Linked DNA regions of Homo sapiens: all the other regions are linked to region 2. Evidence: fine-mapped expression QTL. A gene starts in region 2. Each other region holds a variant in brackets. All regions are shown on one strand. Distances are between the middles of the regions.

Region 1 (11,596 bases), 65 kb before region 2:
TAGGGTGGCAGTGAGAACAGAGGCCCTTTTCATGGCCCCGAAATAACTACACCATGCAAGAGGCTGACGACATCATGGTAACGATGATGTGCTAGTCAGACTAGACTGGGCCTTAATGATAAACACTTGCCATCCGTCAGGAAGGGGTGAGAAGTCACCTAAGGTGAAATGAATTATGATGTAAACAAGGTTTGTCTTCAACATCCCCCCACCTCCTGTTTAAGGATCAGTCTTCCGGACTGGGACCCTAGTAGCTCATAGGCTCTCCTTTGAGTCATTAGGGCCATCTAGTCATCCACTCTAGAGCTTCCCTGCACGCAAGCCATTTATCCTCCAGGCCACTCCTCATCTCCTTCTCCTTTTCATCAAATGTATCTGCTATGCGTCCTATTCTATCAATGTTCATTCACTACCAGTCCACATGAAACTGCAATTTGCTCGTCACTGTAAATAGAATTGTGGTATGTAAGATGGAGAGAGTATCTGAAATGAAACAATAACTCTAATGTTGAGACTATCAGCTTCCAGGGAAGCCTAGGGTGGAAGATAACTGGTGATGATGCCTGTAAGGTTAAGAAGCTATAAGGAATCCTCAAGTCCGCCTGTATTTTTGAGTACTTTCTAATGGTGCAGAGTTAGGCTTTGTTGGAGATATAAAGAGGTAGACACGGCCCCTCATCCCGGGAGTTTGCAATCAAGCAGGTGGGATGGTGAATTAGGCCATTCTTGCATTGCTATAAAGAAATACCTGAAGCTGGGTAATTTATAAAGAAAAGAGGTTTGATTGGCTCACAGTTCTGCAGGCTTTACAGGAAGAATGGTGCTGGCATCTCCTGGGCTTCTGGGGAGGCCTCAGGAAGCTTACAATCACGGCAGAAGGTGAAGGGGGAGCAGGCACGTTATATAGTGAGAACAGGAGCAAGAGAGATGGGAGGAGGAGGGGCCACACACTTTTAGACAACCAGATCTCGCCAGAACTCACTATGGCGAGGCCAGCCCCAAGAAGATGGCATTAAATCATTCATGAGAAATCCACTCCCATGATCCAAACACCTCCCACCAGGCCCCACCTCCAACACTGGGTATCATGATTCAACACGAGATTTCGAGGAAACAACACCCAAACTATATCAGACGGAGATCTTGGGAGCCAGGCACTTGCATCCACCACTTTAAATAATCTTATTATTTAATTGTGGTGGTATCATTATCTAACTTTGCAGACAAGGAACCAAGGCTCAGAGGAGTAAACTATTTTTATCCAAGGTGAGTCTCTCTCCAAGGGGCTGACTAGTGCCTCTCTTAGGACAGTAGCAAGTTGGAATAAAATCTGGCATGCCTAAGGTCTTTAAGGAACAGGGGATGCTTACTTCTTTTGCGTTCCTCTGGCGGCCTACATAGCATACTTAAGCTCCTTCTGGATAGACTGTGTCCTCTTATTCACATGCTGAAGTTGTTATATATTTTTAAACAAATAAAAAGTGAATAATACATTTTTCTAAAAAGTAACTGATTTTCTCTAGGTTCCATACAGATAGCCAGCCATGGGAGTCAGAATTTGAACTCAGATCTGGTCTGGTTCTGAAGCCTCTCTTCTTTCCAGCTGTGAGACAAAGGAGCAAATATGAGAAGCACCTTTTGCTCACTTCTGCTTGCCAGCAGAATTTCACAAAAGCCCTGGACTGTGAAGATGTTTGGAAAGATGCTTTGAAGACAAAACCTTTAACAGGGTTAGTGTTTATGCCTCTGTAATCTACAACCGGATGCGCTCTTACACCCAAGCCTTGATGGGATTCTGCTGCGACGGAAATTCTGAGCAAATTTGATGTGATTGTGCAGGTACTGAACCTCCACTTCCTGTCTGTAAGCAGTGGGCTGAAATCCTGGGCTGGAGCAGTCTCATAGGATCTGACAGGCTGTTGCCAGGCTGTAGGCCTTGGTCTGTAGTCCTCAGTAAGACTTCTGAATACAACTAACTTTAATTCTTTAAAAGCTTGACTGTTTTCTTTAGTCGGCATGGCATTCCATACCATTCCAGAAACAGAAGCCAGGAGGATACGTGAAGGAGAGAGCAATGGCATAGTGTGTGAAGCTGATTAGCTGTTAACTAGCAGAACTGAGAGAAGGCAGCCGGCCAAATGCCCCGGAGGGGCAAGGAAAAGCTTTTTCAGAGAGTTGGGAAGTGGCACTCCAGTGAGGTCGGAAGCCATGAAGGTTGACTTATTTATTCCACAGTAGCTACAAGAAGAGGGGTCTTTCTAGGGAGTGTGACCAGTTTAAGCAAAGGCTTGGGAGGAGGAATAATAACGTGCTGGAAGTGGGAAAGGGGACCTGGTTAAGGGGCTGAAAGTTATTCCTTGTGGATCACCTTCTCATCACACGCTCTTTGACCTCATTGTAGTTCAATGGAGGGAAAGAGAGTCAAAAGCAGGAGGGAAGTTTGTTTCTAAGCGGACAGGGGCTCAGCAAACCCAGTCTTCCCCGCAGTCTTACCTGGAGCCATTGCCTGGGGAAGAGGGTGTTCAGGCCACAGTATCCCAAGGCTGGGGGCACCTTTGCTCAGAAGCCCCCTGTGGTGCTGCTCCTCAAGAGCCTCCTGGGAGGAAGGGCCAGGGAGCCAGGCGGTTCTCCCTTCCCCTTCTGGAATCCTGGCCAGTTTCCATGTACATAACCCAGCTTAATCCATAGAAACAGGAGCTGCAAGGCATGTTCTTTCTCTTTTTTTCCTCTCCAAGACACGGAAACCTTTATTTTCTCCCTACATCACAAACCGGTACTGTTAAATAATATTGGATAATTGCACCTGTCGTACTCCCCATATTGTGCTGGGGAAAAATAATTGCTGGTTTTCTGCTTTGCCGTTTAGCTGTGACTCCGTCATTTGACTCGGAGCATGTCATTTTCTCCCATTTTAGACCGTGTACAGTCAAACCCTGTGAAAGGACTCACAGATAGCGGCCCTGCGTGTATGAGTGGGCGCGGGCCTCATTCAGCAACGATTTCTAATTTATACAGCATTGAATATCCACAGCTATAAATAAACAGTTCTGACTGGCTTTGCTGCCTACTCAAATGCTTTATTAAAAAAAAAAAAGTCACCAGCAACTGCATGAGAAAGGAAAACAAGAATGTCTGGATGTGGATTCTGGCTTCTGAATCCTGGGCTTGGGAGTGGAGACGCCCCACCTTGGGAGCGGCTCAGTGCTCAGCCCCTCCAGTTTTTGGAAGGCCTGGCCTCCTCGCTCCTCGCTCAGCCCCTCACGCTCCCCACGTGTGGGTGCAATGTGTTTGGGGATTACAGTATATGAAACTGGCTTCCTGTTATGACAAGTATTGCAAGTGAGTAGGTGTGGAGGAGCTGAAAATAGCTTAAGAAATGTAGGACCCTTCTGGGGAGAGAATGGGGTTAAGGCATTGTTTAGGCAACAAGACGAATCTTCTACCCAAATTCAAAATTGGTTTCAAATGTGAGACAGCAACACTGGAACAGAAGCATGAGTATAGGCCAGTCCCTGGGGTAGTGGTGGCAGCGTCCTTCCTCCTCCTGTAACGGGGACAGTTTCCACCAATTTGGGATCTCTTGACCACCTTCTTTTGTCCAGCTCTGCAAGATGTGGACACATTTCTGTTTTGTTTTTTAAATAAAGTTTTTGGATGACCCGGTACTGCTTTGCTCTGTAAGAAAGAGGAAGGAAAGTGGGCTCAGGAGTCAACTATCCATGTGACCTTGGACTTGTCATTTCCCTGCTCTGAACGCAGAGGTGTGCTGGAGCCAGTTTGCACAACAGGCTCTCGAGGACTAAGTGGTTGTCCACATCTCTTCCCAACTGTACATTCAGCAACGTGCTGCCAGCTTGAAAAAGGCCATGGGGAGAGTGTTTACACCATGGAAATGAGCACACATTATCAATCAGAGCCTGACATCTTTTCCCCAGAGAGCTGGTTGTTAAACCTTTCCCAGCACACCACCCTCAGAAACTCAGTTTGCTCATTTGTAAAATGAGAACGTAACTCATCTCCTACTTACGAAGTTTCCGTGGGCTAGAATAAGTGGGAGTGGTGATGAATTACTTGACACTACACAAATATTGCTGGTATCATCATGTGGTTGCTATAGTTGTCATTTTCTATTAAGGGCCTAACATAGTGCTATGCAATCTGCAAATACCATATACCTTTTAGCAAATGTTTAATCAGTGTGTTATTGTTTTGTTGTGTATCTTTTCTTAAGCTACTGCAGCACCGAGCATGCCCTTGTGTGCTTAGGCATGTGCTCAATGGGAAATTGTTCCGAGACATTTCTAGTGTTGGAAGAGATATTGCACAATGGCCAGGCATGCTGCAATCAAGGTTTAATTTGGTCCTAGGGCCAGTAAAGCCACAAATAGAAATTTGCAGGCTCATCCCCACCAAGAGCTTACTGTGACTGAGAGTTACGCAGCCCGAGTCACCTCTGGGGTGTGGAACATTTGGGTGATCCCCCGAGGGCTTCACGTTTGGGGAATTTCCACTGTGGCAACTGTTTCTGAGCTCCTGCTGAGACCAGGTGCTTGGAGCAGTGAAGAGGCAGCAGTAGATGTGGGGAAAGAGGTGGTATTCCCAGCTCCAACTGGAAAAGACTTGAGGCCCATATTAACAGAACAGTAGAAAAAGAAGTGGGAATTAAGCAGGTTTCTTGGTGCCTGCCCTGGTCTTCCCTTAGGCTGCCTTCCCACCTGAGATATTCTGTCCTCTTCTGTAACCCTTCAAGACCACTCTTGCTCATTTTTACCAGATTTCTCCTACATAATGTTAGGTTGGGAAGTCCAAGTCCAATTTCCTTCAGTGTCCACACCCCAACCCATATGAGCCTAGTGACATACTAGTAGACTCAAATATGTCTACCCACCAATAGCCATTTGCCATTTGTGTTCTTTAAAAAATGTGCCCACAAATAAAGGCCAGGAAAATAACACTAGGAAAATCACAGCAGGGATCATGAATCCTTGTTAAGCATCTGGAAATCAGCTTTGTTAAACCACACACTAATTCAGAAAAGTGCTTTGTAGCAAAGCAATCTCAACAGCCCTTATAATTCTATCACTTCCCATCCAGATTCTTCTGCAAGCAAAATTTATTACTATACCATTTATTTGATGAATTAATCAATGTTCAAATGGAAGAGGTTTTGACAATGTCACTATGTTTGATGTTTATACCTGCCCTGAATGCTTGCTCAGAAGAGAAACAGATTTCCCAGTATTTTTTATAACTTACTTTCCCATTGTCTTCAATTAATTTGCTATTATCCCAAGTAGACAGACAACTTCAGTAGTAGCCATCTCCCTACATTTTTAGATCACTGAAAAAAATGGATGAGCAACCCATGAAAATAACTAGCTTACTGAAATGCTTGTCTTTTAAAGAAAGTTGGGATTATTTAAAAAAAAAAAAATGGCCCAGGACCAGTAGCTAGGAGATCTGGGAGAGAGAAGTCATTGCCTTGGTTCTGACACTAAGTAACCCTTTTGCCTTTTGCAGGTAACTTCTCATCTAGGTCCTCAGCATCCTTCTCTGTAAACTGAAGAGTTTAAATGACTCTAAGTTCCTCTCTCTCTCTCTAGATGTTCTCTAACACCAAGTTTATGTGAGTTTCTTTGGCCAGATTTTAACCAGAGACCATCCTCCACGAAGGTCAAAGATAATTAATTCTGAGATAGCAGGAGTTGTTTTTGGCATGTGCAGTCAACCTTTCAAAAAACCAAGAGTTCTCAAGTTAAGCTACCTTCACGAACCTCTTATTAAATTTAAGTATCACTCTCTGTCCCTCCTACTTTGCTATGTTCCTCCACCACCTCCCTCCACCAGAAAAAAAAAAAAAAGATGAGAAAAATCTCTTGTGTTTTCTTCTTTCTTGGTTCTTGGAAAATGGTGTGCAATTACTTCCTCTTCTTCCGTGGCTGCCTCATGTCACCTGTACAAACAAGAACAGAGACAGACCTCAGGCTTCAGGCTTTCCCTAATGGGTATTTTTGTTGTGGGTAGAGATTCACTCTGACTTGGGGCAGTGGAAAGTTGAACACACTTTTCCCAAGGTGACAAGATGCAGTTTAAGGAGTTATGAAAAAACAGCTGCCACGATGACAGGGGCAGAGAACAACTCTGCCGTCCTCCCTCAGTGCTGGGTTCACAGTTAGCCAGGCACCCACGATGCTGTTTGCCTTCAGGTACTCTGCATAGCTAAGAGGAAGCATATTGCTGTGACTCTGAGTGAGTGTCTGCAGGCTACACACAATCCATCAGCAAACTTTGAGACTTTGCAGATGGAGATGAAGAGACCACATCAAATTAGAGAGGAAATAGAAGGGTGGATGTTCAACTAATTGGGGTCATTCTGTGACCTCTTAGCAAATGAATTCATCAGCCTGGTGGAAAAGTACTGGCATATGGATTAGGTTTGAGTAAGCTCATTAGAGGGGCATTATTCTACTGAAATTATAGCATTAGATTTGTAGAATGACTTCTATTCAGCCAACAAGTTGGTACTCCATATTTAATGATCATAAATCTTTGTGTAAGCTCTGCAATTTGTGAAATTTCATTAGCTCATTATCCTTTGTGCTTGTTGCCAAATACTGTCAATGCTACTTTAAAAACT[TCTC/T]CTCCATTCCAGAACTTACAGCCCTGGTAGTTCTGGCTTGGTATTCCTGCAGCAAATCCATGCTCCTAATTCCATGATTCACCCTTCAAACCCTGCCACCTTCATCAATTCTATCCTTAACAGTAAACACTAGATATCTTATACTCATTCCATTCTGCTGGAACTCCACTTCTTAGAGGCTATCATGACTGGTGACTTGAAGTCCTGTTTGTGGCCCCTTAATTACACTGATTTCCTAGGATGGCCACCTCTTGATCATGCAGTCCTCATGGCTATCCTTGTATTCATCTCATGCAAAATTTTCAAGATCAAAACTCTGTCTTCTTCGTCTGCTCCTCATCAATCTAGACTACCCCAGTCACTTCAGCCGAGGCTTATTGTTTATCAAGCTTTATGGATTTCACGTTGTTTTCATTGGTGTGTCTACTTCTTTCTCTTCTGTTTTTCCCTTTTTTTTTTTTTTTTTTTTTTGAGACAAGGTCTTTGCCCAGGCTGGAATACGGTGGCACAATCTCAGCTCACTGCGGCCTTGAGCTCCTGGGCTGAAGTCCTCCAACCTCAGTCTCCTGACTAGTTGGCACTAGAGGTGCACACCACCATGCCCAGCTTTTTTTTTTTTTTTTTTTTTTTTTTTTTTTTTGCTTTTTTATTAGATACAGGGTCTCACTATGTTGCTCAGGATGATCTTGAACTCCTGGCCTCACCACAAGGGATCCTCCCATCTCAGCCTCCCAAAGTGCTAGGATTACAGGCAAGAGCCACCACCCTTGGCCTTATTTTCCATTTTTGATGTGAATTCTCTCCTCCCTAGTTAGGGCTTCTCTACATTAGGTCTATAAGTACAAGCACAGTACCTCCTTTTTCTGTAGAGTATACTCTGGGCCTTTAATGAATTCTTTTTCAATTAAATAACCAGCTCACATACAAGAGGGACAATATAAACTTGGTCAATATAAACTTCTCAAATTTCTACCCCGCAGTCACTCTGAGGATTCCTAAAACTTTCTTTTATCCATGTTGTTTACCAATCCCCAAGCCCTCAAGCCTAACTGTAATAATAACCTCAGTCCTTCCACCCCAGGTGTTGAGGACTGAAGACTCCCTTCTCCATTTAAGAAATGCAACAGAACACGAAGGTTTGGAGAAAAGCCACCCAGGAGCAGACATGGTGGTATGAAGCTCTGCTGGGGGAGGACAGCAGGTGGTTCCCTCCATTGGATTAGAGTCCTCTGTCCAAAACCAAGTAGCTAGGAGGAACACTCAGAAATGCCCACATACCCATCCACATGCTAGAGAAGGCACTGTTCCCAAATGGGTCTCTGTGGTGCTCCCAAAGTCATTTTATTCTGTAGGGACTCATGTGGCGTGAACGTTGCAAAAATCATGTTTCTTTTTGCTTCTAGCAGCTGGGAATGGCAAGCGGGTCTTAGTCTTGAATTCTCACAGAGCTAAGCAGTTTGTAGGCTTCTTTAAGTCTTCAAAATTTATCTCTGACCATGCTTTTTTTCTTTTTCTTTTTCTTTTTTTTTTTTTGAGACAGGGTCTTCCTCTGTCACCCAGGCTGGAAGGCAGTGGTGTGATCTTGGCTCACTGCAACCTCTGCCTCCCAGATTCAAGTGTTTCTCCCACCTCTCAGCCTCCCGAGTAGCTGGGACTACAGGTGTGCGCCACCACACGTAGCTTTTTTTTTTTTTTTTTGTATTTTTAGTAGAGATGGGGTTTCACCATGTAGGCCAGGCTTCTCTTGAACTCCTGAGCTCAAGTGATCCACCCGCCTCGGCCTCCCAAAGTGCTGGGATTACAGGTGTGAGCCACCGCACCCAGCCTTCTGACCATGTTTCTATAACGCATAGCTGGAAATAAGGAAACTGTTGACTTAATAATAGATCATATATCTTACCCAAACCAAATTCACAAAATGGATTTTAAGTTGTAATTGGAAAATTATGTTTATTATAAATATTTTCTTGATTGAGAAGCATTTTTCCCAGTAGAAAGTATCCTAGTTGGCAGATAGGAAGTTAGATTCACCCCGACTTGTTTTATTCCTTTAACTGCTGTCAGATAGTAGCAAGGGCTAGAAATATTTTTATAGCCCTGATATTTCACCTGATATTCTTGACCAGTTGGTGCTTGGCTGGTGACTTCCAATCGGGCCACTGGAAGCAGATTCCAACAGATTCTAGCCTCCATCTTTGCAAGATCTGAACAGAAACTGCAGGCATGGCCAAGAAATTATTGTTTCAATCAACATCACCATAGATACCATATATAATTATATGCCTTATTATTCCAATAGTTAGAAATCAGGATAAATAAAAACATAGTATTCTCAAAGATTTACACCTATGTATCTACAACCACAAAAATGAATGCCAGGCATTGAAAATTTGAAGAACATTTGCCTAGTTTCAGTGGGCTGACTCAGAAAAGGGCAAGAAAATTGATGGTTGGGGGGATAGCAGGTGTTAGAGAAATGAGATCTGAGCACTGATAGTCCTGTGTTCACACTGCAGAAGTCCAGGGAGGACAGGGAACTGAGGGCTGGCTGGAGAAACTCCTGTGGGAAAGAGGCTGAGGAAGAGGCAGGGAGGGTAATCCACAGCGGGCTCTTTTTGAGTTTAGGGAGATGAAGTTAGGACAAGAAAGGCAAAATGGAGATAAATTTTTGCCATTGACTAAATGCTGCCCCAGTGGGACCATGCTTTAGAAGTACCTGTGGAGTCATCGCATGATAAAATTCTTTTGCTATGGAATAAGCAGAGTTAATAAGACAAACCTCATCTAATTCCTTCATGAATAAAACAAGGAGGTGGATTAGATGGCCTCTAGGCAGCTTTCATCAAGAAAATCTGCCTTTTAAAAAACCTGGTTTATGGCAAATAATATTAAAAGAAAGTTTCCATGTCATTCTGTCCAGGACACACTCCCAGCGCCACTTGGCCAGGCTGGAATTTTCAGCTTACAGTCTGTCCTTAGGATGAGAAGGACCTATGGTCTTAGGGGCCCTGACAAAGGACAGCCTGACTCCTGGCATGTGTCCATCAAGGGGCATAGGGAGAGGGGTCACAGGCCCTGGATAAGCTGACTGTCTCTCCAACCACCCCCACATAGCAGAGGCCCTGCCATTTGGGCCTGGAGGTGTTTAGCCCCTTTCTGTGCCCCATATCTCTTGTGGGATGATTTTCTCTTCCTGAGGAGCTTGTGTGCTGGTGTCAGCATCCTTGTGTGCTATCAATCATCAAAGAAAAAAAAGAAAATTAAGCACATAAGGGGCAGAGAAGGGAGCCTTTGATAGGATGTCCTGATTGCCTCTTGCCCCCAGTCAATGTGGAAGAGAACCTGCCCTGGGCATGCCTGGGTGTTCAGTCATGGTCATGGTGAGCCAAGCTCTCAATGTCTTGCCAGAGACAGCTTCCCCCATCTGCTTCTATCATGGTTTGAAGTTAACATTCCATCTAACTCCTCCCAAAAAGTAGAAATTGAATCTTTCTTGGGGGATGACTGGTCCCAGTAACTGACTCTGTGCTTGCCCAACCCTCTGCCTCATGACACAGAAAGGCTAGCCCAGGGCAGGGAGTGAGATGGTGACAGGTCAGGCCAGGTGGCCCTGAGGAACCTCTTGTGAGCTTTTTGAGCCTCAGTGCATTCTTGAAGGACCTTCCTGTGGGCCATGACAACACTTGCCTCCTTGACGCTCAAAGCCAGTTCCCTGCAACTGAGTGCCCTGGGAGGACCTCATCATACACTTTCCAATTTAACATGTGATTCCCAGTATGGTTTCTTATTGCTGTCCTTCTTGCTCTCTTGTCCATATTCACCCACTGATGTGGCACAGGAGGAGGGAGAAAGTGAGTAGATGTTCAGCTATTGTGACCATCACCACCAACACCCTTCTCAGTCCAGCAGCCCACTCAGGAGAGCACCACACTGCACAAGGATGCCGTAGACAGAATTATCCACATTGGGAGGAGTCCAGGGTCCTGAGATGTAATAGAGCCTTGTCCTCAGACCAGCAGCATCAGTATGTCTGGAGTATGCGTTAGAAGGGCAGAATCTCAAACTGCACCCCAGATCCACTAAATCAGAATCCACACTTTAACAAGATCTCCGGGTTCCCCAAGATCCTCATTTTGATGAGCATCAGAGGCCTATACAGGTTTGAGAAGCGTTGCTCTGTAACAGCGGTTCCGGATCCCGATTGCAAGTTAAAATAACTGGGAAGCTTTAAAAAATACCCATGTCGAGTCACCATCTCTAGAGATATGGATCTAATTGGTCTAAGGCAGGCCTGGGAATTATTATTTTTTAAACTTCCCTAGTGTTTCTGTGATGTAAAAAGCCAAGGTGGAGAACTACTGCTAGAGAGCTACTGTCACATTGAATGGGTCTTGACTGATACTTCGCCTGATGTTCTTGACCGCTTGGTGCTTGGCTGGTGACTTCAAATTGGGCCACTGGAAGCAGAGATTCCAGTTGTGTCTCAGGATTTCAGAAGCAGAGATTCCAACAGATTCTAGCCTCCAATAGCCTGACCTCCTATTTGCTGTAAGTACCTGAGGACGTGCATCATCTCTGTCCGTCTGCTATCGGGTAGCTGTTACCTTTAATCACTTGCAGCTGGGAAACTGGTAATTTATACATCAACTCAAAGGGGAGAATGAGGGAGAATAAGATGACCAGCAGCAGTGACTAACTGTATGCCAGGTCCTGCTGTAGGCGCTAGATCCTCAGCAAGTCATCTGAGGTTCTCCGTGAGCCCAGGAGGAGGCCACTAGCATTATCTCCACTAGGACAAGAGAAAGCTGGGGCACAGAGACCTTCAGTGTCTCACTCAGTGTCACAGGTACAAGTGGCAGGGCCAAGATAGAGACTGAGGCAGTTTGGCACCAGAACTTTTCTTCTAACCACAGCCCCCGACTGCCTCCCTAAAGCATTCATTTGAATTTCTCCTGT
Region 2 (11,426 bases):
GAGGGACCTAAACCTTGGTCGAGGCAGCTCCCTTCTGCTGAGGGCAATTCTGGGAGGGGATCTCAGCTTTGCACCATCAGCAGCCAACACTCCTGAGAGCTGGGGACTGAGTACCTCAGCGCTGGGGAGGTATGAGGATCTGGGTGCCTTATCAGAGTATCCACTGCACATGAGAAAACTGAAGCACAGAGAAGTTAGGCAAGTCACTCAAAATCACACAGCAAGTGAGCACAGCCAGTGTTCTGGTTTCAGAAGCCAGGTCTTCAATCACTCATCTCTATACTGCGTCCAAAGAACCTACCAAAATGCTGTCATAGTTACTTGCTCAATAATTTATAGCTGCTTTATTTTGGGTGCTGGTGGTGACTATCACATAGTTCTCTCAGTCCTTACCCTTTCAGCTATTGAAGTGCATCTTTGTGAGGCAGAAATAGTTAAGTGTATTTCTGACTCCACGTTGCTGAAGAGTGCCATAGGGGTTGGGTGCGGTGGCTCACGCCTGTAATCCCAGCACTTTGGGAGGCCAAGGCAGGCGGATCACAAGGTCAGGAGTTTGAGACCAACCTGGCCAACATGGTGCAACCCCATCTCTACTAAAAATACAAAAAAAATTAGCCAGGCATGGTGGTGCATGCTGTAGTCCCAGCTACTGAGGAGGCTGAGGCAGGAGAATTACCTGAACCCAGGAGGCAGAGGTTGCAGTGAGCCAAGATTGTGCCACTGCACTCCAGCCTGGGGGAACAGAGAGAGATTCCATCTCAAAAATAAATAAATAAATAAATAAATAAATAGTGCCATAGATTATTACTTAAGGTTGGTCCCCCAAGTGTTGAAGTGGGTGCCATACTATAAATTCAACCCCATCTTCTCACTGTTCACAGGCTGCCTTGAAGTTTAGACCCATAGAGGCCTCCCAGCTCCTCTGTTCCCCCAGCCCCAGGCCAGCAACCCCAAGGACTTATGTGGTATTGCCACTGTTGTCATCATGAGAAGTTGAGGGTGATGACGACGGAGCTGCCTGGGGCTTGGGCAACTTATGAAAAGGGAGGGAAAGGTCATGCTTCTGTTGTTGAAGGGGGTGTCAGGGGCGTGGGGAGGGAGGGGCCCACTCAGAATCTCCCCTGGAGATCCCAGTTATGTGGCCCCACCTCTAACAATGTTTCAGAAGGAAGCTTATCTTTAAAAAGAGGAAACCCTAATAAACTGAATGAATTCTGCGAGCCAAGCTGTGGCTGCTGAGCCTTGCCCTAAACCCCCTAGCTCATATTCTCTGGGATTAGGGACAGTCCCTGGATGGAAATGGGGTGGACAGAGAGCAAGGGACATAGCATTTGTGGAGGACTCAGGCACTGGATGATCTGAGCCAACCTAAGCTGCTTGAGGACACCCATGGCACTGCCTTGGTCTCACGCCTAGCCTCTGGGGTTCCCCATTCTGCATGGCTGTCTGCTGGAGCCTGCAGACTCTACCACCAGGACGGCCTGGTGCCTGCGGGCAGCTACAGCAGGGAGAGCAGTGGCTCGACAGTGGTCCTTCTCCAGCTGGGAAGATGGGGCATGCAGCTCGGGGAGGGAGAAATAGTAGCCATGAAGGGGAAGGGGGTGGATGACTCCTGCTGGCCTCCACCCCGCAACAACCTAGGTGCTCAGTGAGGAGACTGATGTTCTACTAAGTCACCCTCCTGCATCACCTTCTCTACCCAGAGAAGTTCACCATCACCTCCCCATCTTCTCTCCCCACTGTCCACTGCCTAACACCCTGCTGACGCCATTCTGAGCGCTTCCCACCTGTCAGATCATTTCTCCCCCATGGCTACCCTATGGTTAGGTACTATTTTTATTTCTATTTGACAGACGTGGAAATGAAAGACACAAAGAAGTGCCTAGCCCAGGGTCTCGGGGGCAGTAAGCAGTGGGACTGAGGTACCATCCCAGAGATCGCAATTGTAACCATTGTGAAATACCACCTCTCCCTCCCAGCAGGGAATCAGTGGCCCCTTCACTGAGGTCAGTTTACTCTCTTATTAGGCAGAGACTCCCATCTGTCCTCTCCTACCTTCACTCTCCTTAGTCAGAAATGGGTCACCCTGACCAATTCTCAATGGCACCTTAGCCACTACCACCAACCCCAGGGGAGTAGCTCAGTGCAACTCGTGTCTGTCTCCTGTCTCCTGTCTGTCTCCCCTTCCAGTCCCCTGGGATAGCTTCAAGGGGAACTGGGGCAATGCTCACAGTGCCAACTGGCACAAAAGGGGGCTTTGCTCTTACAAAGGGGACAAAAATGATACTCAGCCAATTAGAAATTCAAGCTGTTTACGAGGAGGGGTGTAAATTTTCTGGTAATCAGGACTGGATACTAACTTCCCCAAGGTGAGGTAAAATAAATATAAGAATGTGAGCGTAAGTTGTGAGACCTTTATGACTTAATAAACACAACCACCAATTAATTAGTCATGAATGAACACTAATTAATCATTAGGAGACACAACCATTAATCAGCCCATGAATCTCAAGAGCTAGACATTTGCAGGTCCAATATTTCACCTTAAGCAACATATTCGAAATCTACATTAAATCGATCCTCTGAAATACACTCAACCCATCTTCACCAGTTGGGAAGCATTTCATTAGGTCACACTTTCAAGATGACTCCTAATGGAGCTCAGAAAGAAAATCACCACAGGCAAGCCCCTCTCAGCTTATTTACGAGGGCCAGAAGATACCAGAAGAGAGGGACTGCTTGAGGATGCAGAAAGGCTGAGGTCACGTCAACGTACCAAGTCGCAGCTTTTTAATATCTGGGTATCCTGTGCCAGCCACTGTGCTGAATTCAAGGTAGAAATATAGACAGTTAGGGTTGGCAAGGACCTAAGATTAAAAAAAACTTCTGTTTTGGAGCCAAAGTTTGATTGGAATGTTAAGACTCACATGGCAGGGAGAGAGGGAATTAGAAAACAATACTACATATAAATCAGCAGAGACTGAGAGATGCTGTGAAAATCAGAGAAAGGAAAAGGAAATTTGGACTGGAGTTGGTCAGCAAGGATTTGGGAGGAGTATATGTGATTCCCAATGTTCTATGAAAGAAGCAATGTGGTGGAGAGAGGTAAGTAGGCCTTTCTTCTAAGGATAGAGAGAACACCGGGCAGAGAAGTGACAGCAGGAAGCCCAAGGACCAATACTAGTGAGACGCAGTCCTTACTGCAGAAGAGACCAGCCTCCCAGGGAGAGGGAACCCGAAAGGCTGGTTGGGCAGGTGAGCTCTTGAATCGGGAGTTTGACATTGGGTCCATGAGGCAGGAGGGAGCCACTGTGGTTTCCTGAGCGGCAGGCCACACTTTTAGATCCAGGTCATGGTATTAAAAAACAAACCAAAACCAGTGCTTTGAGAAGATTAATTTGGAATCTAAGTGGCTGGATTGGACCATGAATGGACAGTAAAGAGATGATATGGTCATCCAGGTAGGCTTAATATAAGCCTGGAATGAGAGAGACAGTAGTAAGGTTGAAGAAGAAAGGATGAACTTAGTAAAAGGAAAAACTAATAGGATTTGGTAGCTGATCAATCAGGGAAGCAAAATTGGGATTAACACTAGGAAATGATAGTATCATTGACAAGATAAGAGACTTTTCTCACTCTTGGAAAATAAGGGCTCTTGGAAATGTAGGTGAGCTAGAATTAAAAAGTCAGGATCAGTTGTGTGTGTGTGTGTGTGTGTATACAAAGAGGTAAGGGAGCTAGTTAATGAGTGTGGTGATAAATCTATTCTTAGCCACACATAGTGTGAGGTAGGACATTCATACTGGAATTGGATTTTATTAGAAAGTCAGTCCTAACTACAGACACACTTCCCTTTTAGTGGACTGTTTTTCATAGAAAGCCAATAGAGACACAAACCTTAGGGGTGTGTGTGTATGCGCGTGTGTGTGTGTGGTTTTTTGTTGTTGTTGTTTACTGTGGCACTGCTAGTTATACAAAAAACATTTTTTGTTTTGTTTCTGTTTGTTTTTCTCATAAAATTCCATGATTGAAACAAGTAGTCACCTTGAAGTTTTCAAAGACACTAGAGCTGTGTTCAGGGTTCCAATTTTTCAGGCCCAAATCAAGAGGCCACTAACCAACCAGTGAGGAGGAAGCAGCCACTTTGGGCCTCTTTGATTTTAACTCTCTCCATTTCCACGTCCTTAGCATTTCAGAGTGTCACAGTTTCTGACCACATACATTCTCCGCTTGTCAAATGAGGATTACAATTCTGAAAACAGATGTTTATGTGGCACCCAAGATTTTAGTCAAAAACCTCAAATATTAATTCACATCCCCAAATGATTCCCCATTATTAGCTTTTAACTTTAAAAGTATTTTTTTAAGCTATTCCTCAAAGTATTTTTCATAATCTGCTTTTCTCCCATTCATTCACACTTCATCAGAATGCAGTCAGCCAGGTTAGGAAGACAAGAAAGGAGTAAGTCATAAGATTGGTTTTTAAATAGTTGAAAATGTGTATTTGCCATTCGGTTGGGTGATTTGTCCTTTAAGATGGAGCCTGAACCTATAAAAAATTGAGGTGGGAGCTGAACATGGCAAAATGTGTTTGCTTTTCTTAGATAAATCTGTTAGTCTGTGTGTGCTGTAAAATGGCATTATTCCTTCATTGGAAATTACACTTCCTACACACCATACGCCACTCTGCCTTCTCTTCACAGACTTCCCCAAGCAAAGTTCAAAATGCCTCCTGCATTTGTAGTTAATCCCATGGTGAAACCATTAGCATGGTCCCCTCTTTGAGCTCATCTGAAAAGAGCTCCAAGATGAGATTTTTTTTTTCAAGAGAGCATTTAACAATGAGCCAGCATAGAAATGTTAACTATAGATAATTTCCAAATTGGGTTTATCAGAGCAAATTGTTAAGTAAACAAAAAACCCAAAACTCACAAAACGGTGAAGAAGGAAGACAAATAACAAAATTGTGTATTTAATAAAATCCAAAGATGATATGTGTGGCAGCACTGATATTCTAGAGAAATGGATCGGTTCCTGGTACGGACATATGGACTTACCAGATTAAGCAGCGTCATATATTTCCACCTTGCACCATTTGCCAAGATTTTGGGTTTCACCTCGTCTTTTCCTTCCTGTGAGATGTAATAATTGAGGAAAGTATACCAGCTCAGAACAAGGAAGTGGTATATGCATGTAGAAGTCTTCGTCATGGCGAGTGCTGACCGGGGCACCGTGAATGTCTTGAGTACTTTCTGGCGTCCTTCTGTGGGTCACAGCCTAAGTCCAACAGCAGGCCGGAGAGCTACAAACCACACCCCTCTGGGACTGAGAGTTCCAACACAGGCTGAATTTGGTTCTCTTTTAAGCTCCTTTCCTGATAAACTTCAGAGGCAGGATTACTGCTGGTTTTCAGATGCCTGCATTTAGATAATGATAGATAATCTGTAGATTTGCATAAAATACAACATGTGGGCTTTGAGAAGGGCAGGTAGCAATGCAAGAGCTGTACATTGTACTGTTTCACTAGGGCACTGGGGCAGGGGCATGGTTAAATGAAGTAAGCATGAAATACTAGGAAAATCTAGCGAAATACTTCCATGGCTGTAGTCTCTTTTCTTTTCATTTGCATATAACAAGGAAGTTGCAACCTTATCTCTTGAGAAAAGGAGGAGCAGGTTGATAAACCAGATCATGGGTGTGCTTAGGGCATGAACAGTAGAAAGGAAAAGTGTGTTGTAATTTTGCTCCTGAGGTCTCTGAGATTCTAGAAAGTCTGCAACAACCTTTGATCCTCCAGGGAGCAGCTCCAATGGTTTCTTTTCTTTTTTTTTTCACTTTTGTAACTATACCCTAGAGAACCAAGAGTAACCCAGGGCTGTCCTAGACACTCCATTTGCATAGGCATTTCTGTGCCCTGGGAGGGAAGAAGCAGCACAGGAGACCATCCTTACTATGGCCATGACCCCAAAATACCTGACTTTAGACATTGCTGGGAGAGGGTGAGAGTCCCCGCTCTGCCATGAATAGGATGAGACGTGGCTGGGCTAGGCAGCATGCCGGACTAGGCTCTGACTCAGGTTCCACAGAAGGGAACTGAGGAAGAACTAGAAGTGGATGCCTTGTGACATCGCCAGCTTGTTTCCCTGGGCAACTGACTCCGAGGGGTGAGCAAATCCCTCAGAGAAATGCTCCTGACACAGTTATGTAAGTCTGTAATTGGTGCTTTTCAATGACTTAACCAGGGCTTAAAAGTACTAGCAGAAAGAACTGTAGGCTGGACAAGGAGGACAAACCATAAACAAACCCACCTCCTAAGAGTCAACAGACTCCCAATATCAGGATTGGGAGATGGGAGGAGAGCAAACCTGAGCCCGCCATGGAGTTCTGCATTGTAACCATGTTTTTTTTTTTTTTTTTTTTTTTCATCTGTTGGGGCTGCTATAACAACATACTGTAAACTGGGAAGCTTGGAAACAACAGAAATTTATTTCTCAGTTCTGGAGGCTGGAAGTCCAACATCAAGATGCTGACAGAGTGCCTGGTGTTTAATGTGGGTCGGTTTCCTGGTTCATAAATAGTGCCTTCTGGCTGAGTCCTCATGTGGTAGAAGGGGCAAACAAGCTCCCTGAGGCCTGTTTTATAAGGTCACTAATCCCATTCATGGAGATGCTGCCCTCATGACCTAATCACCTCGGAAAGCTCCCCTCTCCTAATGCCATCACCCTGGGAGTTAAGATTTCAACATAGGAATTTGCAGGGAACACAAACATAGACCATAGCAAACCATTCTCAAAGGAAGGGGTGATCTGGGAAATGGGTACATAAAACTCTGTACAAAACTCCACAGCCTGGGCTAAATTGCAAATAATAACAGAAGCTAATACTTTTATAGTACTTACTGTTTGCTAAACATTGTTCCAGTTGCTTTACACATATTAGCTGATTAGCACTCTAAATAACACTATGAGGTAAGTACTATTACGAATTAAGTACATTTTCAGATGAGGAAATTGAAGCCCGATCTGCTAAAAGGATGTGTTCAACACTTTGTAAGAGGCAGAGCTGCCGTCTGAACTCAGTGTGATGGTTAATATTGAGTGTCAACTTGATTGGTTCGAAGGATGCAAAGTATTGCTGCTGGGTGTGTCTGTGAGGGTGTTGCCAAAGGAGATTAACATTTGAGTCAGTGGATTGGGAGAAGCAAACCCACCCTCAGTCTGGGTAGGCACCATCTAATCAGCTGCCAGCGTGGCTAGGATAAAGCAGGCAGAGGAACGTGGAAGGACTAGACTTGCTGAGTCTTCCGGACTTCATCTTTCTCCCATGCTCTCAGGATGCTTCCTGCCCTCGAACATCGGACTGCAAGTTCTTCAGCTTTTGGACTCCTAGATGTATACCAATGGTTTGCCAGGGACTTTCGGGCCTTTGGCCACAGACTGAAGGCTGCACTGTTGGCTTCTCTAATTTTGAGGTTTTGAGACTCGGACTGATCCACCACTGGCTTTCTTGCTCCTCAACTTGTAGACGGCCTGTTGTTGTGATTGTGTGTCACTTCTTAATAAATTCCCCTTCTTATATACATACATCCTATTAGTTCTGTCCCTCTAGAGAACCCTAATACAACCAGTGTACCTGCCTACAAAGGAACAATGTTGCTCTGCACACTCTCAGACTCCCACTTTGATATTTCTCCTCTCCCTACTGAGTGCCCCTTTTTTTTTTTTTGAGATGGAGTCTCGCTCTGTCGCCCAGGCTGGAGTGCAGTGGCGCGATCTCGGCTCACTGCAAGCTCCGCCTCCCGGGTTCACGCCATTCTCCTGCCTCAGCCTCCCGAGTAGCTGGGACTACAGGCGCCTGCCACCACGCCCGGCTAATTTTTTTTGTATTTTTAGTAGAGACGGGGTTTCACCGTGTTAGCCAGGATGGTCTCGATCTCCTGACTTCGTGATCCGCCCATCTCGGCCTCCCAAAGTGCTGGGATTACAGGCGTGAGCCACCGAGCCCGGCCGAGTCCCTTTTATTCTTCTCTCCTCTCATCAGAAAATTATCTCAGAAAAGGATCAATATGTTTTGAAACTTGGTGCACATATGAATGAATGAATGTCTCCAAGGGTGTTTTCATTTTAGACACCATTGTTGATTTAGAGGTTTTATTCCTTTATACAAAAAAAAATCTCAAGTCTAAGTCTGCAGATGGGTAAGGATTGACGCAAAGGTAGGAAAGGAGGGGAAGACAAAGACCCAAATCTCTGAGATGTGTGTGTCCAAACCTGGACACTGGCCTTTCACCACCTAGATGGTTTTTTTCTCTACGTTAGCCTCATTGCCCACAGATGGGGCCTCTCATAAATATTGATAAAATTATTTAAATTTATTTGTAAGAGTTTTAGTGTTTTACATTGGGATCCAATGAATTGTTAGCATTTTAATAAATAATGACATTAATATATAAGGATTTAATAACATGTAATATCATTTTAATACATATTAATAATTAATAAAATGATATTTTAATAAATAACATGTATATGTATATAAGGATTTAATAATTACATGTAATATATGTATATAAGGATTACATTATGAGTTAAGGATTATGAATTAAGAAATAGTTTTATTTCTTAAGAAATATTTTAATATTTTAAGAAATAAAACTATTTCTTAATTCAACATCTGCATTTTCTTATAAACTTTTCACAAAATTGTTGCCAATGAAAAATCTACATTGCAACCATATTCACATCATAATTTGTGTTCCTGGTTGAATAACCAGATCCATTTTCATGAAGTAGCCTGAACATCTGTTCCCCACCATGAGACCAGGTGGAGCTTTGGAGAGCAATGAATGTCACCTCTTAGTTGCACGTTATAAACTAATACATACTAAGCGTGCTGTTTGTCTGCCTTTTCCTTTCTCCAAGTATCTGAGGGCTTCACGTCATATCCAGGAGAAGTGGGAAGGAATTGTTCAAAACTTTTATTATTTTACACAGGAAATTTTAAACATTTAAAAATAAGCATATTTCATACTTTGATTTGGATACTACACAGGCCACTTGGTTACTAAGAGTGACTTTCTTTGAAACTCTCTACCCCCCTGGGAGTCCGCAACATGATTCTTTAATTTCACAAATACTTATTAAGCAACAGCTATCTGCTAGGTCCTGGGGATTCCCCGAGGAAGAAGAGCGATGCAAACCCTGCCCTCATGGAGCTTATATTTTAGCAGGAAAGATGAACATTAAGCAACAACAAAAACAAGTGTTAATTTATAACTATGGCAACTTCTGTGAAGGACAAACACAGCAGACTTATTAGAGGGGATGGCAGTATCAGACCTGGTGTGGGTAGGGCGTCAGGGAAGCTAGCCCTAAGGAAGCCACGTATGAGCAAGGCTTATTCTCCCAACATGCTCTTACTATCCTTCTCAGTCTGTTTAATGAGCTCCTCTTCCTCCACCAGCTCCTTCTGTGTTGGCATTCCCCAGAGAGCTGGTCCAGCTTACCGTCCGTCTCCCAACACATACTCACCCTAGTGATTTTATCCATGATCATAATTTCTACCACTGCCTTCCAGTTTGTGACCACAAATTATATACCTCTGGTCCAGGCCCTCTCCCTATCCCCACCAAGCTTCAAACACATCTTTGACTACCTGTTGGAATCTCCTGAAGGAGACAGACACGCCTCAAACTCCATACGTCTAAAACGAGCTCACTGACTTCCGCCAAACCAGGCTTTTCTTCTCTAGTCTCTGTCCTGTGACCATGGCCTCACCATCGACCTGGGAGCTTCCTGTGTCCTCCCGCTTTTTTACTCTTCAAATCCAGTTAACCACCAAATCCTGCCAAGTTCATTTCTTACATCAGGGTCAAATCAGTCCCTTTCTTTCCATCCCTTCTACAACTGCCCTCGTTCAAGTGGCCTCCATCTCTTGCCACCACCATAGCAACCAGCAACCTAGCTGGTTTTCCTGAATCTAGTTTGATGCCCCAACGCTGTTTTTCACAAGGTCAGTGAGTGATTCTCTCTGAAATGCCACATCCCCCACCAGCTCATGTCGTTTTACTACATCAGCATCACCCACAGCATTACATCCAAGTTTCATAGCTTTTAATAACCTGCCCACTTCCCACTGGCTCTCTCCATCCTCGTGTGGCATCCCACATTGGATGTCACTCCAACAACACTGCATTGACAGAGCTTTTCACCCACACCTGGCTATGTCACATACCGGCACCTTTACTCCTACTGTCTCCTCTCCCTGATGCCTCCTCTCAACATATCTTTGACTGGTTACGTCATAACCCTCATTTAAAATGCAGCTCAGCAGCTTCCTTTTCCAGGAACCCTTCCTGGATGGCCACCACAACCTGGCCATCTTAAACAGCTCCCTCCTGTCTTCTTTAACCTGCTATGCATCCCTGCATGTTGCATAATGATTAGGAATTAGTCTTTTTTGTACGTCATTATCTCCTAGGGTTCACATATGATGTGTTTGAATTCCCAGAGCTTAGCATAGTGCTGGACACACAGTAAGTACCTAATAAACATCTGCTGACTAAGAAAACAAATAACCCAATTTAAAAAATGGGAAAAAGACCCGAATAGACATCAAAAGATGACATACAAATGGCCAACAGATATATAAAAAATGTTCAACATCACTAAACCTCAGGGAAATGCAAACTAAAACCACAATGAGATATCGCCTTACACCTGTCAGAATGGATGTTATCCAAAAAAAAAAAAAGAAAGAAAGAAAGAAAGAAAAAAGAAAACACGTGTTGGCAAAGATGTGGAGAAAAGAAAACTCTGATATACTGATGGTGGGAAATAAATTAGCACAGATATTATGGAAAACGGTATGAAATTTCCTCAGTAAATTAAAAATAGAACTATAATATCATCCAGCAATCCCACGACTGGGTATATATCCAAAGGAAAATGAATCAGTATGTCAAAGAGACACGTGCACTCCCACAGTCATTGCAACATTCTTATTTACAATAGCCATGACAGGGACTCACCCTAAGTGTTCATCGATGGATAAATGAATGAAGAAAGTATGGTACGGATACACAGTGGAATAACGCTTAGTCTTCAGACAGAAGAAACTTCTATTTGTGACAACACAGGTGAACCTGGAGGGTATTACGTTAAGTGAAATAGGCCAGGCACAGAAAGACAAATACTCCTTGACCTCATTATATGTGCAGTCTAAAAAAGCAGAGAGTAGAATGGAGGTCACCACGGGCCTGGGGCGGAGGTGGGAGTGGGGGTTGGGGAAAGTTGGTCAAAGGATATAAAATTTCAGTTAGACAGGAAGAATAAGTGTAAGAGGTTTATTGTACAACATGGTGACTATAATTAGTAATAATGTATTGTATGCTTGAAAATTGCTAACAGAGTAGATTTTAAGTATTC
Region 3 (9,244 bases), 49 kb before region 2:
TCTAATAAGGGGTTAATATCCAAAATATGTAAAATATTCCTGTAACTCAACAATAACAAAAAACCCAAATAACTCAATTAAAAATGGACAAAGGACTTGAATAGACCTTTTACAGAGAAGATACATAAAAGGCCAACAAATGCATGAAAGGATGTTCAACATCACTAATAACTAGAAGAAATGCAAATCAAAATGACAGTGAGATATTGTCTTACACTCATTAGGATGGATACTATATTTTTTTTAAAAAGACAAGATAACAAGTGTTAGTAAGGACATAGAGAAATTGGAACCCTTGTTCATTGTTGGTAGGAATGGAAGATGGTACATCTGCCTTGGAAAACTATATGGTGGTTCTCCCCAAAATTAAAATAGAATTACCATCTGATCCAGCAATTCCACTTCTGGGTACACACCCAAAAGAACTGAAAACATGGCTAACATGGTGAAACCCCATCTCTACTAAATATACAAAAAATTAGCCAGGCGTGGTGGCAGGTGCCTGTAGTCCCAGCTACTTGGGAGGCTGAGGGCAGGAGAATGGCATGAACCTGGGAGGCAGAGCTTGCAGTGATTGGAGATCGCGCCACTGCACTCCAGCCTGGGCGAGAGAATGAGACTCTATCTCAAAAAAAAAAAAAAAAGGAATTGAAAACAGGGATCTGAAGAGATATTTGTACACCCATGTTTATAGCAGCATTATTCACAATAGCCTGAAGGTGGAATCTCCCCAAGTGCCCACTGATAGATGAATGGATAAATAAAATGTGGCTTATACATAGGCATTAAGAAGGAAGAACATTCTGACACATGCTACCACACAGATCAACTTTGAAGACATGGTAAGTGAAATAAACCAGTCGTAAAAGGACAAATACTGTATAATTCCATTTATATGAGAAACCTAGAATGTCAGATTCATAGAGGGAGAAAGTAGAATGGTGCTTGCCATGTGGTTGCGGGAGGAGGCAGCGGGGAATGCTATCTATGGTTTCAATATGGTTTGTTTGTTCGTACCAAAACTCATGTTGAAATTTGGTCCTGCGTGTGTTGGTGTTGGGAGGGGGAGCCTAGTGGGAGGTGTTCGGGTCATGGGGTTGGATCTCCTAAGAATGGTTTGATGCTGTTCTTGTGATAGTAAGCTCTAGAAATGGATTTTTTCTATGAGAATGGGTTGTTATAAATCTAGGGTGCCCCTCAGGTTTTGCCCTTTTCACACGTGTCCATTTCCCCTTTGATCTTCTCCACCACATTGTGAGGCAGCAGTAAGGCCCTTGTCGGCAGCCAGGGCCATGCCCTTGAACTTCTCAGCCTGCAGAATATGAACTAAATAAACCTCTTTTCAATCTCTGATATCCTTTTATAGCAACACAAAATGGACTGAGCCAGGGAGTTATTGTTTAACGGGTAGACTTTCAGTTTGGGAAGATGTAAAAGTTCTGGAGATGGATGGTGGTGATGGATGCACAACAAGGTAAATGTACAAAATGCTACAGAGCTTAAAAATGATCAAAATGGTAAATCACTTAAAATCGTTAAAGTTGTAAATATTGTGTACCTTTTACCACAATTTAAATGTATCTAAGGAGGTGTCAATTTTAGGGTCATATAAATGTAGGGTTGGCATTTAGTTCCTCGCCTGGGCCCTGCTGGTATCACTCTGCTTTCCCAAACTTGTCTGGATGTTCCTCCCAGATTGAGAATGAGGTGACTAGAACAAACAATAATTATCATCATTGTTACTAATATTAGAATTCTTTTTCTTTTTTTAGATGGAGTCTCACTCTGTTGCTCAGGCTGGAGTGCAGTGGTGCAATCTCGGCTCACTGCAAGCTCCGCTTCCTGGGTTCAGCGATTCTCCTGCCTCACCCTCCCGAGTAGCTGGGTTTACAGGCGTGCGCCACCATGCCCAGCTAATTTTTGTATTTTTTGTAAAGACAGGGTTTCACCATGTTGGTCAGGATGGTCTCAAACTCCTGACCTTGTGATCCGCCCACCTCAGCCTCCCAAAGTGCTGGGATTACAAGCATGAGCCACCATGGCCAGCCTAGAGTTCTTTAAGATATGCGTTCCATGGATGCATTACAGGATGCCCACAGTGATTCTTACCTGCATGGCTACTTCTCATGGCAGGACAAAGAAGGTATATGGCATAGAAAATAAACAGTTTCAAGTAGATAGGGCTAGGAGTTTGGAGTCAGTGAGGAGCTCTGAATGTACTCCAAAAAGTTGCATCACTTAGTTCACTTTGTTTACTTTATATAGTTGAAATTAGGGCTTCTGAATTCCCATGCACATTTATGTAAGATAGTCTATAAATAAGGACATCCCCCCAGAGGCTTGGAAAATTTCTGTTTACTTCATGTTTGTTTCCTTCAGCATAAGGCTTGTAAAAGAAAGTTCCCGAGGTAAGCTAATGAATTGTGTACTTTCACAGATAAAGTGTAAGGAAAGTTATAGGTGTGGTACCTGACAGTAGGAAAATTAACAGAGATACAGAGTATGAGGCAAGATGATAGTAATTTACCAAGGGTACTCAGCAGAGAGGCGTGAATGAGGACAGAGTCACACTGTTAGTTGACATCACTTCTTTATGGCTTGCCTGAATATGAGGGGAAGGTGGGAAGAGAGAGGGGAAAGAAGAAGGAAGGAAGGAAGGAAGGACGGAAAGAAGGAAGGAAGGGAGGCAGGGAGGGAGGGAGGTAGGTAGGGAGGGAGGGAGGGAGGGAGGGAGGGAACTTTGCATTCAACATGTCTTCTATTTCAGCCAATGTCAGCCCTCCATTCAATCTTGCCCCCAAGTTTGATCCCATGAAATCATATCTATACTAAACTTCCTTCTAAATGTTTCTTCAGCGCACACATTTCACAATCTTCCTTCAGCCTCCTTCATTCCATTTGGGTTTCTGTCATTGTCTACCAACTAGGCTTTCTTGCTCCTTTCAACCCACTTCCCCTATTGCAAGCCATCAGTAATCCGGTAATCTTCCTAAAAGCGAGCTCTGTCCACAGCCCTCCCCTGCCTGCAGTGAATCCCAGGATCCCAGCTGCTTACCTGGCCTGGCCATGCCCCGCTTCCATCTGGAGATCTGCAGTCCATCCATATTGAACCCCTTTGTTTCTTGAGTGAACTGAGCGCTGCAGTTTCTTGGCTTTCACACCTGCTGTTGTCTTCACTGGGTACACCTCTGACCTTTTTGTTTCCTGGAACCTACTTCTCTTTGCCCTGTGTCTGGCTGAATCTTACTCACGCTTCAAATCTCAGCTTAAAAGTCTATTTCTCTAGAAAAGATTTCCTGAAGCTCTCTCCCCCAACCCTGATTCGGGTAAATGCTTAC[G/T]CCAGGTGCTTCCTCCACCCTGGAACTTACCTTTGTTACTTATTTGATTGTTTTTCTCACTAGCTTGAAAGCTCTGCAGGGGCAGGGACTGTCTCTGTCAGGCACATTTATTTGCCAAGTGCCCAAAATGCAGCAGGTTCTTTGAATTTTGAAATGAATGGCTGTGTTGGGTGGCTCTGTAGGACACTGCTATGGACGGCTCTCAGTCGCCTGACTCACCAAGACCACCACAGGCTCTGGAAATTTGGAAATGTACCCAGTGGCCTTTCAAGTTTTGGTTAATCTCACTTTACTAATACTTTGAAGAGGCCAATGACGTTGCCCCTCAGTTCAAAGAGCAATTTCACATCTTTCTTGAGCCATCTGCTACGTGAACCTCTGTGAGTTGGACTGGGTGGGCACCAAATGGCAGCCAAAAATTAATCTTTTAGGGTCTCCTTATCCTAAATCTTAGAGCATTATAATGGCTGTCAAGAAATTCATAACTTCTGCGTCTTATCAGTAGAGAAATACCGACGTCTGTGGGTGGCAGATAAACAGATAACGGAGTTTTGTGGGCTTTGGGCATATAATTCTTTCTTTCGGTGTTAACCCTCAGGTCACGTCTTTCCAGCCCAGGAGAATAAATCAAACAGAAAGAGTCAGGAGAAACTGCAAGGCTAGAGTGTTAGTCAAATAGTTTACCTAGATGTTGAGGTGTCGGCAGTGATGAGAGTCATTGGGGTGGCAACCTCATCACGGCATTTAGAGCTGTTGCCCAACCCCTCCCTGAGACACCCCCTTCCAGTTTGAAGCCTCTCTGCCTTCAGGGCCCATGGTTTTCTAACTTCCTGCCCTTCTACTACCTGGTAATTCCTTGCTACCTTTGCTGCTCCTTCCCCCTCCTGTCCCTGAGAGGAGGGCCTTTCCCTGGTGTTTGCTTCTTACTTATCTTCCCTCTCTCCTCTCTCTCTTTCCAGCAATCTTGTCACTCCACGAGGGTTCAACTAGCTGCATCTCCTCAGCCCCATCTTTCTTGAGACTGCAGGGTCTGAATTTCTGAATGGAAATTCCTCCAGGCAGGTGATTCTCAATCTTGTCTCAAAATTAGAATTGACTTGAGGGCCTTAAAAATTCCAATGCTGAGGGCATATCCTGAACCAATTAAACCAGAGTATTTTTGAAATGAGACCTAGATATGGGATATTAAACTGACTGTTTTACTTATACCCAAGACGATTACTTTCACAATTCATTTTCATCTATCAATGGAATCACCATTTTTCTTGTCTACTAACTTAAAATTTTTAGAATTATCCTAATTTTTCCTTTTCATTTGTGTGGTACATGTCAATCAATCCATAAAACCTATTCTGTTGTTTCAACAATGTGTCTCAGGCATGTCTCTCATTTCTGATTCTACAGTTTTACTCTCTTCATGCCGTTATTATTTCTGATTTCTGTTACAGGCATTTTGGTTGAATAAGAACTAAGGTTTGAACAGGAAAGATGAGAAGAGCAGGAGATGAGATACCCTCTCCTCTCCTAGTCCTCCACCTCCATCCCTCTTCAGTTTGGATCCTGGCTGGGCTGGACCCCGCATGTTGACAACAAGGATGTGTTGTGTGGCATCTTTTTAATTAATTTTCATATATGAATTTACAGGTAGGGTAAGGATTTCTTCTGTGGAAAATGGTGCTGAGATTCCAATCCCTGCTGAGTTGAGGTTATAAAGCTATGGTTGACCTGGATGATCTCAGTTGAAGGTCATATTTTGGAAACGGTAACAGTGGCTCTGGTAGGGAGTTCACAACATGGTTGGTTCTGAGCAGGACCAACCATGTGTTAGGGAAAATATTTATTCAATAGAAAAATGAATAAAAACCAGAAAGAGAAGAAGAGAATTGCTGATTCTGGAAATGGCAAGGTGGCTGGTCCTGGAACTCAGCTTAGTCCACCCCTTGGCAGTTTTTAATGTATTCTCAGGGTAAGATGTGTACATGTATTTGTAAATGAGGCATGAATTTAAAGAACTGTTACTTCTGGGAACCCAGGAAGCTTTGCTGAGGGATCTTACCCTGGAGAGCACAGTATAAAAGAAAGTAATTCTCTCTCTTGCCTCATAGCAACTACTTTGGGGAAGGGACTTTACAAACATCTGCCCCAAGGCTGGGTGACAGCTGCATATCTGTGCAGTGTTTGTACGGGGCATGCAATACTTTACACACTAGCAGGGACACCTGCAGCATCAGTAGGTTTCTGGTCTACCAAGAGCAGTGTGATGATGCACTCCAGGCCAGCTGGGGTGGTTGCTGTGGCGAGTAACATTGTTAATTCTACCAACACAGGGGGCTGATGGGTAAATGACACTGTTGGCATCAGCAGTGGGCATGGTGTGCTAACCCTTAACACTGTGCCAGGTGGGGATGTTGGACCCAGTGGGGATTACAGTTTTGCTATCTGTGTGTAAGAACAATGCTCAGAACAGTGTGCAGCATGGGTTGTGCAGTGCACGACAGGGGCATGTGTGAGCACTCAGCAGATTATTGGAACTCCTTGGAAAACTGGACCAAGACCTCCAAGGCAGAAGGGTGCTTGGGGATATCACTGGAACTGTGAAATAACCATACATAAAAACTAAGACATTGTGATCAAAGTACATAATGTGCTGGCTAGTTTTTATTTTTATATTGGTTTATATTTTATTTTGTTTCCCATCTCTTGTCACTCCAACTTATTTGAAGCACTATTGTCAAGAATGACATTTTAAAGCATAATTTGCTGGCCAAGTTACAAATACTGCTCACCCTTGCTTCCACTCCAAACAAACAAACAAACAACAGCAACAACAAATGCTCCCATTTTCTATACTATGTCCAACATCCTCTAGTCTGCCATCTGCAAGCCTTCATGAGTGGGTAGTTCCAGGGATATTTCTCATTAGTCTCTTTCACAAACAGGTCCAGCAAAGAGAATTACTGACCCTTGCTCTCACGCTTTCTGCACTCTCCTGGCCTTGGGACTGTGCTCCTTTTGTTTACCTTCTCTCATTTTTTCTAGCTCCAATCCTGCCGGTCCTTCAGGGCTCAGATCCAATGCATGCCTTCCACAGTGCCCTTCCCACACCGCTCAGCTGGATGCAAACTCTTCCTTTTCTGTGGCTCCTTGTGTTTTTTTTATGAGGTTTTACCACTTTCCATCTTCTGCACTTATAATTTGTATGCATGGGTCATCTCCACTTATTAAGGATAAACCCCCTGCAGGCTGAAGCTTGGCCTGATATAACATTGCTTTTCTGGGCAGGACCAACCATGTGTTAGGGAAAATATTTATTCAATAAAAGAAAGAATAAAAACCAGCAGAAGGAACATTTCTATTTTTTTGCTCCTCACCACTGCCTCAGGGAGAACTAGGTGAGGTGTTTTGGGGTAGGAGAGAAGGGAGAAATAAGTGAGCTACCATATTTAAAGGTGACTAATGCTTTCCAAAGGAAATGAAAGCTTTGCAGTCATTACTATTTTGCAAAGCTTTATTTTCCCACTTAGGGGAGAGCTCTTCAATTTTGCAATCTGAAAAATAACTAAAAGCAACCACCACATGTAAGGCGGTCCCCACGGTCTCAGGAACTATTTTTAGGTCATTTGAACATGGTTTCGGCGGTGAAATGCTTCTCCAGCTCAGCTTCAGTGCCGTTTTCCTGACTCATGTTCGTTTCTCACGCTCCCTCTGGCCCGAGCCCATGCTCTTTACCTCATTCGTGTTATGCCATTTCCCCATTTGACTGTCCAAACTGGCACATCTGACAGTGGGCCCATAGCCACTTCCCTAAAACGTCTCCATGGGTGTCTGCAGTTTGTAGAACTTCATGGCCATCTGTGGCTGTGAGGAGCCAGGGGCCCTGGAAACTGCGTAAGGGTGGGGTTGGCAGGCACCAAAGAGTCTGAGCTCCTCTAACCAGGGCGTGAGCAGAAATAGAGATGCTTCCATCAACAGGATCACATCAAACACCCTCCTTTAAGTGTCTATATTTGATTTGTTCTAGCAAAAATGGGGCTTAGTGGACCAAATACCAACTTAGCATTTTTCATGAAGGACGAAATCCCAAACCACCTCAGCTCCCCACTGGGCACTGGGGCTCACCCAGTCACGTTCCTGCTGGTGACAGGTCTCCATCCCTTCCCTCCACTCCCTTCATTACCAGTACTTTAATGTCTAATCCAAGCACATAGAGCTGGGAACAACACGTGAAAGATTTCAAAGTGCAGAGCTAGGTCAAGCTTTGTGCATGCCCATCCATCCAGCATTTAGCTGAATGGTTTTGCACACACTGGGAATTGAACAAATACCTGGCCATGTAAACACAGTGGAAAGACAACTGGATTTGGAGAGAGGAGACCTCAGTTTTAGTTGGCTCAAGTACCAGCTTTGCATCTCTACCCCACCTCTGCCATATGACCATGGGCATGTCATCTACCCTACTGGAGATTTAGTTTTCCAATGCTAAGTCATCTCTAAGTCACCTCCCATTGTTCACACTCTCTGATTTTATTTGTGGATTGACTGATGTTATCATCAGTTGGCTAACATCAACTCCCCTGAGTTACCAGCAATGCCACCAACTGGTCTACCTGTCTTGTTCCTCTTCAGTCTAATGTCCACACTTCAGCCAGAATCATCTTTCTAATCAGCTTTCTTACATAAACCACATCATTTCATTCCTCTGATTATAACACTTTTCTACAGAAAAGCACTTGGTTTAAAAGTCCAAACGCACTAATGTGGATTTACGACCTGGCTTTACCCTGTCCTCCAATTCAGCCATACCCTCAGCTCCTCCAGCCCTTTGCAGATGCTGTTTTTTCTGCCTGAAGGTCTTTTCCATGTCTCTTTTGACCTATTCTTATTCATTCCTTGGGCCTCAGCTTAGACAGTGCTTCCCTTTAAGAAGCCAGTCCTGCACATCTCTCTGTGTGCCCATAGCATCCTGGGCTTATGCCTATTACAGTCCTATCACCCTGTCTCCCACTGTCTGTTATGCTCCTCTTTCCCGGACAGCCTCTAAAGGTAGCAGGTTTCCTGAACTTCACTGTATCCTCCATATTTTAGCACAGTGCCTGGCGCTGGTGAACCACTGAATGGATAACGATGCACTTGTACCTGGCTCCCATCCTGTGGCATTTCTTTCTCCAACATCCTAATTACCTGCATCATGGGGACACCCGCCCAGGTACTGACAAACCAACCTCCTGGCCTCTACTACTCATTTTTATAGCCACTACAATTTTCCCCAATAACAGCAGTGGCCTTAGGTGCTTTTCATCTTCTTCATCCCCAAAAAGGAAAAGAAAAACAAGGGTCAGATATGTGAACTGAAAATCAACTTACAAGTCCTTAGGTAGAAGACATTAGTAAGTAAAAGGTAATAACATATATATGAACTACCAGATTTACACTTGGCAATAAAAGAGTAAGTTAAAGACCACCAAAAAAAATACAGCATACAAATTCATGTGTATAATCAGCTAGATTCCACTTTGCTTCTCTTCAACACATGCAAGAACAACAACAACAAAATCTTTATGTGTCTATACTCTTACCCCAATCCAGGTCCCAGATACTCTGTCTTTAGGGATATATTCCTTTGTATTAAGCCAGATATGGCAAACACATAGCATATATCTTACCACTGTCCATTGTCATGCTATTGAAAGTCATTGCCAAATAATCACACAACTTTTTCTTGGTAATGCCTCAGAATCCTTTTCAACAGAGTGCTCCAGACATCAACTATCAGTAGGACCCAAGCTTAAGCCTCGTTCTCTGAAATTCCCTTTGTTAAAATGTAAAGGCTTCAGAGGCTGAAGAACAATATAGAGCACTGGAGTCTGGGGGTAGATTTATTGAGCAAGTGCTTTCTTTAAGATGGG

The links.
Region 1: its variant is fine-mapped to the expression of ADTRP in whole blood (TOPMed, PIP above 0.99).
Region 3: its variant is fine-mapped to the expression of ADTRP in whole blood (TOPMed, PIP above 0.99).

Annotation. Positions count from the first base shown.
Region 1 is chr6:11,708,560-11,720,155 of GRCh38, forward strand. ADTRP (androgen dependent TFPI regulating protein) reads right to left here. Exons shown (of 6, transcript NM_032744.4): 6 at 4,964-5,953. The coding sequence ends at 5,919. It overlaps LOC340184 (a long non-coding RNA gene), which reads left to right. Exons shown (of 3, transcript XR_001743973.2): 3 at 1,524-1,840. It overlaps LOC124900221 (small nucleolar RNA SNORA67), which reads left to right and starts at 1,260; the gene lies at 1,260-1,401. RefSeq lists enhancers at 3,081-3,130, 5,817-5,966. The variant TCTC/T (reference allele first, on the strand shown) is at 6,638.
Region 2 is chr6:11,773,550-11,784,975 of GRCh38, forward strand. It overlaps ADTRP (androgen dependent TFPI regulating protein), which reads right to left and starts at 5,254. Exons shown (of 6, transcript NM_032744.4): 1 at 5,058-5,254. The coding sequence starts at 5,210.
Region 3 is chr6:11,725,272-11,734,515 of GRCh38, forward strand. All of the region lies in intron 4 of ADTRP (androgen dependent TFPI regulating protein), which reads right to left. It overlaps LOC124901258 (a long non-coding RNA gene), which reads left to right and starts at 1,894. Exons shown (of 2, transcript XR_007059452.1): 1 at 1,894-2,143; 2 at 4,787-5,976. RefSeq lists enhancers at 4,263-4,432, 6,817-7,116, 7,397-7,486 and a cis regulatory region at 4,348. The variant G/T (reference allele first, on the strand shown) is at 3,339.